Linked DNA regions of Homo sapiens: region 1 is linked to region 2. The links come from fine-mapping of genetic effects on gene expression. A gene starts in region 2. The other region holds a variant in brackets. All regions are shown on one strand. Distances are between the middles of the regions.

Region 1 (5,364 bases), 20 kb after region 2:
GGCTATTCCCAGGGCCCTCTCCTAAGTGCCATCTGATCTTTGGAACCACAACCTGACCTCTAGTTCAGAGGCTGAGGGGAGTTGGGCTAAGGCCTCCTGAGGCAGGACGAGGAGCGATGGATAGGAGCGCGTTCGCGGGTCCTGGGGTGGGGTCGTTTGGGTCAGACTGCCATGGTGGGTGTGGCCCCATTTTTCCCTGTGCAGGTAAAGTGCTGGGCAACCTGCAGTTGAACTTGCTGAGCAAGTCCAAGGTGTACGAGGACCCAGCTCTGAGCGCCATCTTCCTGCACAACAACTACAATTACATCCTCAAGTCCCTGGAGAAGTAAGTGGCCTGCGGGAGTGAGTCTGCGGCTCTCACCTTCCCCTCGGCTGTGCAGCTGTGCCAGCCCCTGCCCCCCTGGGCTCCTTCTCTTGTGGACGAGAGGGGAGGGGGTGCTTCAGTCTCCTCCACCCCAGGACCCGGAAGGTGGGATGCCATAGAGCTTGTGGAGTTTGGGGTGCAATGGGAGGCCCTCCCGGCATTGCCGCAGCCTTTGGGCCTGAGGAGCCAATCCTGTCCTCCTCTCCTCTGTCCCCTACCCCGACCCAGGTCTGAACTGATCCAGCTGGTGGCAGTGACACAGAAGACTGCTGAGCGCTCCTACCGGGAGCACATTGAGCAGCAGATCCAGACCTACCAGCGCAGGTGAGAGGCTGGGCCCGCCCTGCTCCTGCATGGGCCCCTGTGCCACCACGCACTCTTCCTTCTCAGCACCTCAGGACACAGAGTCGGTCACGGGGAACTCCTGTCCTCTGGACCCTAATCCTCCACTTGGTTTCTAATCAAACTCACGGGGTGGAGAGAGAAGCCCCCTCCTCTACCACTACCTGCTCCTAGGGGCCCACTATGGCCACTTTAGAGGGGAGTCTGCCAAGTGTCAAGGCTAAGAATGATTGAAGAGCTGGCTCTCAGAGACGTGGGTAATGTTTACCTAGGAGAAGAGCAAGGTCGCGAGAGCACTTGAACGTGGCTGAGCCTTGCTCTGTGAGGATCCCGCTGCTTCTCTGGTCCTCTTTCTTCCTGGCTTTGTTTCTTCCCTTTGAATGTGTCTACCTCTTCCTTCTCATTTATCTGCCCTCCACTCCTTTCTTTCTCATCTGTTTCTCCATCTTAGTTTGCCACGATATTGATGTGAAGTATAGTTGACAGTATTTGTCCAATTTATTGAACACTCAAGTGTTTCCTAATGTTATCTCAAAAAGTGACCAGTTTAAAGATTTTCTCTTCCCAGGAAGAAAACCTGTTGTTTGCTTAGTTGTGACCCACATCCCTTCCTACCACCACCCACCAAGTAGATCCAGAGATTTAGCAAACGAAACAAGCCAGGCCACTGAGGCAGGCCACCCTCTGCCCTCATGCTTCTCTTTCTGTCTGGCAGCTGGTTAAAGGTGACTGATTACATCGCAGAGAAGAATCTACCTGTGTTCCAGCCGGGAGTCAAGGTGGGCTCAAGACCTGGGCTGGGAAGGGGTGTCTGGCAGACGGGATACTTTTTGTCGTGTCTCTGGGAAAAAGTGGACAAGCATCCCTCTGGGATCAGAGAGCAAAGGATGCATGTGGCCATCAGGACACAGGAGACAGGCCCAGACCAAGGGTGTTTGGGGAAGAGTGGGGGAAGGCTGCTCTGCTCTGAAGTGAGCTTTCTCTGCTATCTCTCCTGGCTTCCCAGCTCCGGGACAAGGAGCGGCAGATTATCAAGGAGCGTTTTAAGGTGAGTCGGGGTCCTCTCCCCTCCACTGCTTGCTGCTGCTGTTGAGGCAACACAGACCCAAAATGTTTGTCTCTGGGTGCCTTCCTTTTTCACCTTTTTGGTGGCCAGGGCTTCAATGATGGCCTCGAAGAACTGTGCAAAATCCAGAAGGCCTGGGCTATTCCAGACACAGAGCAGAGGGACAGGATTCGCCAGGCCCAGAAGACCATTGTCAAGGAGACCTACGGGGCCTTTCTACAGAAGTGAGGCCTCCATTCCCCTCCCAGCCTGTGCTGCCCACAGCCCCAGTGGGCCTCTTCAAGCTCCTCTTCCTCAAGGGAAAAAGGAGAAGGGTGGTGGATTTAGGCAGCAGATCCAGCGACCTGGGCTTTGGGGCGGGGCCAGACAGGGAATCGCTCAGGGCCACCCCTTCCAAGACTATCAGGAGTGCCTTAGGCTGAGGGTGGAGCTGGGGAGGGGTCGGCCCTCCCTGTCCCCTGACCACAGTGCC[T/C]CCTCAGGTTTGGCAGCGTGCCCTTCACCAAGAACCCGGAGAAGTACATCAAGTACGGGGTGGAGCAGGTGGGCGACATGATCGATCGCCTTTTCGACACCTCTGCCTGAGCCTGCTGCTAGCCCTGCCTGGTTCCACCAGACTGGCGTGTCATTGGACAGATAAACCAGTGTTAGCTTGCCTCTGGGCTGGGTGAGCTTGAAGTCCTCTGGGACAGAGACCTGTCTCCACGCCTCCGGGAGCTGTGTCCCTGAGCCCCCTAGTCCTGGCTCCTGCTTTTTCCCCACAGCCCGTGTTCCCAGCCGAACCAGCACTCTCCCGGAAGCCTGGGGTCCCTCCACACCTTGGCTTTTATGACCCTGATGGCTTCTGAAACAGGAAAAGAGAGAAGGAAGACAGAGGCCTGTGCCCACTGCTGCTCCATGTGTACCAAGAGCAGCAGGGCAGAAGGGCCCTCCCTCCAGCCTAGGTCAGAGGTGGGGACAGAGAACTCCCCTACAGCCCAGAGATGTGGCAGGGCTCAGAGAAGCAGCCAGAGCTCCTGGAGGAAAGGCAGTCGGGACTGACCCCCTCTCTTAAAACACATTCCCGCCCGCCCACAGGCCTGAGGTCTGGGACCTTTCCCTCCCAGGAGTCCCCTAGGTGGCTGGGGGAGGCAGGCTCACTGGCCATTTTCCCTAGAGTCCAGCACACTGCAGGAGGCGTTCGGAGGAGGAGTTCCGCCCCACCCTCTACAGCCTTCCTCAGGCCCCTGTCTCTGGCCCCCAGCCTCAGTGCCTCTTGGCCCAGGGCCAGGCAGTCGTGGTTGCAGAAGGAGCAATTAGGCTGCCTGCCTGTGGGCTGGGAGACAGGGACAATGGGGAAAAGTTAAGGAGCAAAATGGGGGTTGGAAGCAAAAAATAGGGCCCCACCTATTTAGGACGAGATTGAAGACTGACCCTTGAGGCACACTTGCACTGGAGATGGGTTTATTTCACGCTCTGTGCTTGTGTGCTAGCGGAGGGAGAGCTCAGGGTGGCTTAATCCAGAGGCCCTGTCATGGCCCGCCCCCAGCCATGGGAAAGCAAACTTCATCCTAAGGTGTGCAGCCCAGGCCCTGCCCCTTTACAGTCTAGGCCGCCTGCCATGGGGTGCAGCCTCTCCAGGGGCTGCGTCAGACTTGCACGCTGCCCACATCCAGATTCCTGCAAAGACGAATTGGGTGCACAGCACCCCAACCACATACACGAGGAAGAAGATGCGGTCAGCAGTCTCAGGCCAGCTTCTCTGTGACCCCTTTACTCCTCTGGAGGGCTCTGTGGGGAGAGATACAGGGAAAGGAGCTGTTCTTCAAGGTCCCCTCAACATGAGCGGAAGAGCGAACCCCAGGGGTCATCAGCCTGTATCGCTTCCTTTCTTAGATTCTCAGCTGATGAAAATTTGGGTCTGGCCCATTTCAGGCCATCTTCAGTTGAAGAAACACCCTCTTAGGCTGTGCAAGGCATGGGTTATCAGGGGATTGAGGTCACCTGGGACTTCAGGGAGGCTCAGCTTGCTCCCTGCCCCAGACCTGTTTCTTCTAAGGGAGGAGGACATGGTGGAGACCAGGGACAGGAGAGCCAGCAGGGTGGATGCAAGGGGCCTCTACCCACACCTGGACCTCCGTGCCCTCACCCCAGCCCTAGGTGTGCACCTAGGCCTCATTCCTTACCCCCCAGCCCCTGCCCACCTTCAGCAGGATGAGGCCCTGGGTTGCCGTGCTCTCGCTGTTCCCCTCTCGGGGCTGGGCTGGGGCCGCTCTTGGCCCCAAGGTTGCCCCGGGCCAGCAGCCCAGCCAGCAGCACAGTCTCTATGGTGCTGAGGAAGAGCAGCAGCAGCAGGATGGTGAAGTAGTAAACTGGGGGAGGCAGGGCACAGGGAGATGCTCAGGGGCCAGTCCCTGTGTCTCTGGTGCCCAGCGAGCTGAGCACCAGTGGGTGACCGGGGAGAAACAGGGCAGACTGGGTAAGGGAGCAGGGCTTACTGAGCAGTGGGTTGCAGGAGGAGGAGCTGGGCAGGGCCTGCACCAGGGAGGAGTGGAGGACGAGGTAACTCAGCAGCAATGTCACCTTGTAGCCTATGCGCTCAATGGCCCGGAGGGGCAGCAACCCCCCGCACACGTCAGCCAACAGCAGTGCCTCTGCAGGCACCAAGAGAGCGATGATGGACTTGAGCGCCGTGTTCTTCAGCCTCAGCTGGAAGGGGAAAAGTCAGGGCCTTCCCGGCGGGGGGGAAGGAGGTGGGCATCGGGGGCATGGGGCCTGGCCTCTGGCCGTGCATCCTCACTCCCACCCGCCTCCAGCAGCCCTCTGTCGGCCTCCTCCCGACTTGACTCACCGTCACCTGGAAGCAGGGCACCAGCTGCTGGGGTGGGACTTGGGTCTTCAGATCATAAACTACGTATTCCCTCTTGACACTCACAATCTCGTTCACCACGTGGGCCTGGAACTCTAACTCCATCGCTGAGGGGTGGGAATGAGAACTATGAACCAGGAAGGAGAGATCCCAGCTGCCAAGTCTGGGGGTAGCAGACTGGAGCCCAGGGGTGATGGAGACTTTTGATGGCTTTTGGCAGGGACAGACTTGGACACAAAACCGATCCATAGAAGGGCTTCCCAAACCTTGTTTTGCAACATCCCAAATTGTCTCCAGTTGAAGGAAGGCCTTTATCAGATTCATAGATGAGCTTTCATTGTAAAAATAAATGTACTTTGCACCACTTCATGATGGAGGGAGAAGTGGTCACAGGCTCGTCAGTCTATCATCTCACAGCTGAAGCAGGATCCCCAGGGCTACCGCTGTGGTCTCTCATGGAGGGAAGGGTAGGACTTCTCTGCCAAGTTAGATGTCACCTGATGGGTTTATACAGGGTGGCTGCACCTTCAGGTGGTTTCCAGGAGTGAGGCCATGGCAACCTGAGCCTCTGGCCTTGCTGCAAGGGGCCGAGCCACTGCAGTCGCCATGGCTGTGGAGGGCAGTTGCTCTGGGGAGGACAGAAGACTGATGTGCTCGGACCTCTGGGATTGCAGAGCTGCTGCGAATGTTTGAGTCTGTCACCCTAGAGAGGGGCCCTGAGGCTACCGCTGAGCACAGAGATGGGCT
Region 2 (5,364 bases):
CTGGCCAGCTGTGTTGACTTACTACAGCTGACTTCTCTGAGCCGGAGCTTCCTCGTCTGCACAAGGGAGACGACAGCTGGGCCTGACTCCCAGGTTTATGATAAGGATTAGAGGAGCATTAGCAAGGGCAATGTTTGTAGTAGAGACAGGCAAACAGAAGACTCTCAGTACATGGTATTGTACTAATGGTATCTAACCCCATTAGACTCAGACACTGAAGGAAATGCAGTAAAGCACACACAGCTGATTGACAAAAATGCAATGACATTGTACAGATTTGAAAATATTAGCTTCCTCACGCACATAAAGGATTCCCAAGACCTATGGAGCAAAAAAAAAACAAAATTTTTTTTTTGCTTGAGATGGAGTCTTGCTCTGTTGCCCAGGCTGGAGTGCAATGGCACCATCTCGGCTCACCGCAACCTTTGCCTCCTGGGTTCAAGCAATTCTGCCTCAGCCTCCCGAGTAGCTGGGACTACAGGTGCACACCACCACACCCAGCTAATTTTTGTATTTTTAGTAGAGATGGGGTTTCACTATGTTGGCCAGGCTGGTCTCGAACTCCTGACCTCGTGATCCACCCGCCTCGGCCTCCCAAAGTGCTGGGATTACAGGCATGAGCCACCACACCTGGCCGGAGCAAAATATTTATTATCAGTATTTTTATTAAGCATCTACTATGGGCCAGGAACTGTTTAGAGACTCAGGCCAAGCACGGTGGCTCACACCTGTAATCCCAGCACTTTGGGAGGCCGAGGCGGGCGGATCAACTGAGGTTGGGAGTTCAAGACTAGCCTGACCAACATGGAGAAACCCCATCTCTACTAAAAATACAAAATTAGCCAGGGTGGTGGCCCATGCCTGTAATCCCAGCTACTCGAGAGGCTGAGGCAGGAGAATCGCTTGAACCCGGGAGGCAGAAGTTGCAGTGAGGCGAGATCACGCCATTGCACTCGAGCCTGGGCAACACAGCAAGACTCCGTCTCAAGAAAAAAAAAAGAGAGAGAGAGAGAGACTCAGGTTAAATGCTGGACCAGGCCCTCAAAGGTAGTCCACCTGAGCCCAAAACACCCTCTCTACAGCGGCTAACTAGCCCCGCTACTCTATTCTGTGACATCTAACAGTTTAAACTTTCTCCTACTTAGCCCTTTGGACTACACAAGGACCATGTCAGCGAAATCATCCTGGGTATTTCCTGACACAGGAATCAGCCTTTTATCTCCCCCACCTACAACAGGATTGAAATTGTCCTCTTGCCTGAGGGAAGGCTGCCCATCCCTCTCCAGGCTCTGTGCACCCACTTCCTCCTCCTCCTCCTCTTCGGGTGACTATGGGTGGAGTGAGCGCTTGGGAACCCTAGAGCTTGGGTTCTTCCTTCTCTCCTTCTCTCCTTAGGCCGGGAGCAGGGGCTCACGCCTGTAATCTCAGGACTTTGGAAGGCCAAGGCGGGTGGATCACTTGAGGTCAGGAGTTCGAGACTAGCCTGGGCAACATGGCGAAACCCTGTCTCTACTAATAATACAAAAAAATTAGCCGGGCGTGTTGGCAGCCGCCTGTAATCCCAGCTACTCGGGACGCTGAGGCACGAGAATCACTTGAACCCGGGAGGCAGAGACTGCAATGAGCCAAGATCGTGCCACTTGCACTCCAGCCTGGGCGACAGAGTGAGACTCTCTCTCAAAAGAAAAGAAAGGAAAAAAAAAGCTTGGTGTCCCCCCTGCCCGCCCCAAACCTTCTCATCTACCAGCACATGCCTCCTTGTCTATCTTCCGGGTGTCTGGACACTGAGGCCACAGAAGGACTGAACCAAGCTGGTCGGCCTTGTCCTTTCTCAAGGCTGGGGGCCAGAGGCAGGGTGGGCAGGGACGGGTTAGAGGAAGGAGTAACTCGAGGTTTTGCAGGAGCTGGGTCTGCAACCACAACATCCAGCCCCGCAGGGAAGTTGATCCAGGGGCGCCCCCCACCCCGTCCCCTGGAGCTGCAGTTGGACGCTGGGTCTGGGCCTGGAGCTCCGGAGCAGCCCCGCCAGCCCACAGGATACGTTTTTGCGTAATGCAGGGTGGAAGGCGGAAACAAGTACACAAGCCCCTGGTTCATTACATGGACACACGTTAGGCATCTACTGTGTCACCTGCTCCGTGCGGGGCTTTGTGGGAAACGCAATTGGCCTTGGTGCCTGCCCATAGAATGCGACCTGGGGAAAGGAATTCGTCGCCTTCCCCAGCAGTCTTTATCAAAAGGGTCGGTCTTTCAACGAAAACAGCAAGTGAGCTCTAAGTGTCCTGCCAGCCGCGGGACATAAGGCCGATCGAAAACCTCTGCTGAGGCAAGGAACCCGCGTCGAGGTCCCTTGCAGCATCCGAATACACTTCTCTTCCCAGCCACGCTCAAAATGGCCGTCGGTCCGTTCTTGGGCTCCGCGCAGGCGCACTTCAGCCTGCGATTCCCAACATGGCTCCGCCCAGGCGTCCCGGGGCGGGACCAAGAGCGGAAGTGGGTGTGACGGGGACGGGGGCCCGGTGGGCCCGCGGAGGAAAGATACTGGGGAGTGGGAGCCGCGGGGTTCAGAGCGATGATTCCCCCACAGGAGGCATCCGCTCGACGGCGGGAGATTGAGGACAAGCTGAAGCAGGTGGGCGTGGGCCTGGGGAGGCTGGGGAGGAGGTGAGGGAAAGGGGCCAACAGCGGGGCCTGATTGTCTACTCATGGAGGAGGCAGGGGTGGGAGGGAGCGCACCCAGCGAGGAGATGGGGTTGGGGGCTAGGCCGTGGGGTTGGGACGCAGTGGTCTCCTTTAGCTTCTGGTTTCTGGTGATGTCCTCCCCTTGCCTGCCCCCAGGAGGAGGAGACTCTGTCCTTCATCCGAGACAGCCTGGAGAAGAGCGACCAGCTCACTAAGAACATGGTGAGTCTCCCCGCAGCTGGGGGAGAGGGCAGGCCTCCGGACCCTGGGGGAGAGCCTTGCGACCTGGCGGTTCCGGTTCCTGCGGCCTGGAGTTCTGGAATGGGCAGCGACGGAGGCAGTGTGTGGGTTTATCTAGCAACAGTTTGGCATCTCTCCTGCCTAGCCCCCTCCCCATGTTCCGTACCCTCACTGAGGAGGCTGCACTTCCCACTGGCCTGGACTTGCTGCTTTCTGTCTAAGCTCGCCATTCTTCCTTCTCTCCTTCTGCAAACACTCAGTGAGTCTGACCAGTTGGGCTAGGTACTGGGCATATGTCATTGTCAGTGGACTCTCTGCCCAGGAGGTTGGCACTTTGAGATTCCTGAGGGCAGAGAAGACTCAGCCTTCACTCCAGAGGACTTTAGGGAAAGAAAGAGCTCTAAAGTCAGGCAGATCTGGGATCTAGTCCTTGCCCTTCTGCTTAAATGTGCGGCTCCTGATAGGTAACTGGTGTCAGCGAATTCATCTGCTAAAACAGAGACTGTGCCAGCCTCCCAGTGTGTCTGTGAAGGTCATATGCGCTAATGCATGCGACTGCATCTTGCACAGTGCCTGGTATACAATAGGTGCTCAATAAGTGAGTTTCCTTCTTTATTCCTAGGGGAGACTGGAAAAGCACAAAGTGAGTAAATACAAACTTGTATTTGCATTTAGTCACACAATAATAAAGTCCTAGTCCTTTTCTAAAAATTTTAATTTTTAAATTTTTTTTTTTAGAGGCAGAGTCTGGCTGTGTTGTGCAGGCTAGAGTGCAGTGGCATGACTGTAGCTCACTGCAGTCTCTAACTCCTGGGCTCAGGCAGTCCTCCTGCCTCGGCCTCCTAGCAGCTGGGACTGTAGGCACACACCACCACGCCTTGCTAATTGTGTGTGTGTGTGTGTGTGTGTGTGTGTGTGTGTGTGTCTGTGTGTGTAGACAGGGTCTCACTGTGTTGTCCAGGCTTGTCTTGAACTCCTAGTCTCAAGCTAACCTCCCGCCTCAGCCTCCCAAATTCTGGGTATTACAGGCATGAACCATCACGCCCAGCCTCTAGTCCTTATTCAATGAGTTTCATCCTTAGAGAGGGTTTTGAAGATACAGCAATGCATTTGAGGCTACTCTGTATGAAACTACTTCCAGTCCGGTTTAGGAATGCTTCAGAGAGAACAGAAGTTGAGATTTGGCTTCAAAGGGTGGAAGGGAAGCCATCTTGGGCTGATTATTTTAAGAAGAATTAATTTGATGCTTGGTTTGCCTTCAAATAAAATTTCAACCAATTTGTCTTAGACCACCTACTATATGCCAGGCACATGATAGGTGCTGAAGATACAGTGGGGAACAGGTACACCCTGTTCCTTCGCTTGTGGAGTTTATTGTCTAGAAAACCAGAGAAAAGGCAGGAAATGCCGAAGGTGGGTGTGTAGAAGCAGTGCTGGGACCACTGTGAGTCCCAAGATCAAGAGGCTTCCCTCCCGCAGGTGTCTATCTTATCATCCTTTGAGAGCCGCCTTATGAAGCTGGAGAACTCCATCATCCCTGTGCACAAGCAGACGGAGAATCTGCAGCGGCTGCAGGAGAATGTTGAGAAGACGCTGTCCTGCCTGGACCATGTCATCAGCTACTACCATGTGGCCAGTGACACTGAGAAGATCATCAGAGAGGGGTGAGTGAGTGAGGCCCAGAGGGTCAATTCCTAATGCCTCCTGGGCCAACAGGAGGGTTGGTCTGTAATCCCAACAATTTGGGAGGCTGAGGTGGGAGGATCGCTTGAGACTAGGAGTTCAAGACCAGTCTGGACAACACAGTGAGACGCCTTTTAAGCCCTAGGCCTTAAAAGGCAGTGGGGGGATAGAATATATTTGAGCCTGGAGTCCCCTGTATTAATTTTCTTTTTCCCAAATACTGTGTCCTTAGTCCTTCTTCATCCCCCATGCCCCAGCCTGACCTGGCTCTTTTCTTTCCCAGCCCCACAGGTAGGCTGGAAGAGTACCTGGGAAGCATGGCCAAGATTCAGAAGGCAGTGGAGTATTTCCAGGACAACAGCCCAGACAGCCCGGAACTCAACAAAGTGGTAAGGGGTCCGCAGAATAACGTGAGAAGCTTGGGGATATCAGTCTCTGCCCTGGTCTCATGAGGGACATGGAGCCAGCTTGAGGATGTATGCAGTAGAATACACAGAAGGATATAGCACAGTACATCCTATAGGCATTAGGATCTCTGCTTCAAGAATTGCACATTTTTTATTATTAAAAATTCTTTATTATAAAACTTGTTAATGTATTATAAAAATTAAATTATAAATTACATATAAAATATAAACTTAACATTTGATTTGTTGTTGTTGTTGTTGTTGTTGTTGTTTTTTCCTGAGACAGAGTCTTGCTCTGTCACCCAAGCTGGAGTACAGTGCTCAGCTCACTGCAACCTCTGCCTCCCAGGTC

Evidence for each region. PIP is the estimated chance that this variant, and not a neighbour inherited with it, causes the effect.
Region 1: its variant is the best candidate, but not a certain one, in a credible set for the expression of EXOC7 in whole blood (INTERVAL, PIP 0.62).

What each region holds. Positions count from the first base shown.
Region 1 is chr17:76,080,638-76,086,001 of GRCh38, reverse strand. ZACN (zinc activated ion channel) reads right to left here. Exons shown (of 9, transcript NM_180990.4): 6 at 4,600-4,724; 7 at 4,247-4,457; 8 at 3,953-4,120; 9 at 3,196-3,539. The coding sequence ends at 3,349. EXOC7 (exocyst complex component 7) reads left to right here. Exons shown (of 19, transcript NM_001013839.4): 14 at 205-325; 15 at 593-688; 16 at 1,422-1,485; 17 at 1,713-1,754; 18 at 1,863-1,996; 19 at 2,252-4,986. The coding sequence ends at 2,354. Among named protein-coding and RNA genes, the nearest start is that of ZACN, 4.1 kb to the right of the region's middle. RefSeq lists a silencer at 4,708-4,908 and an enhancer at 4,993-5,364. The variant T/C (reference allele first, on the strand shown) is at 2,245.
Region 2 is chr17:76,100,901-76,106,264 of GRCh38, reverse strand. EXOC7 (exocyst complex component 7) reads left to right here and starts at 2,478. Exons shown (of 19, transcript NM_001013839.4): 1 at 2,478-2,632; 2 at 2,839-2,904; 3 at 4,402-4,586; 4 at 4,889-4,994. The coding sequence starts at 2,573.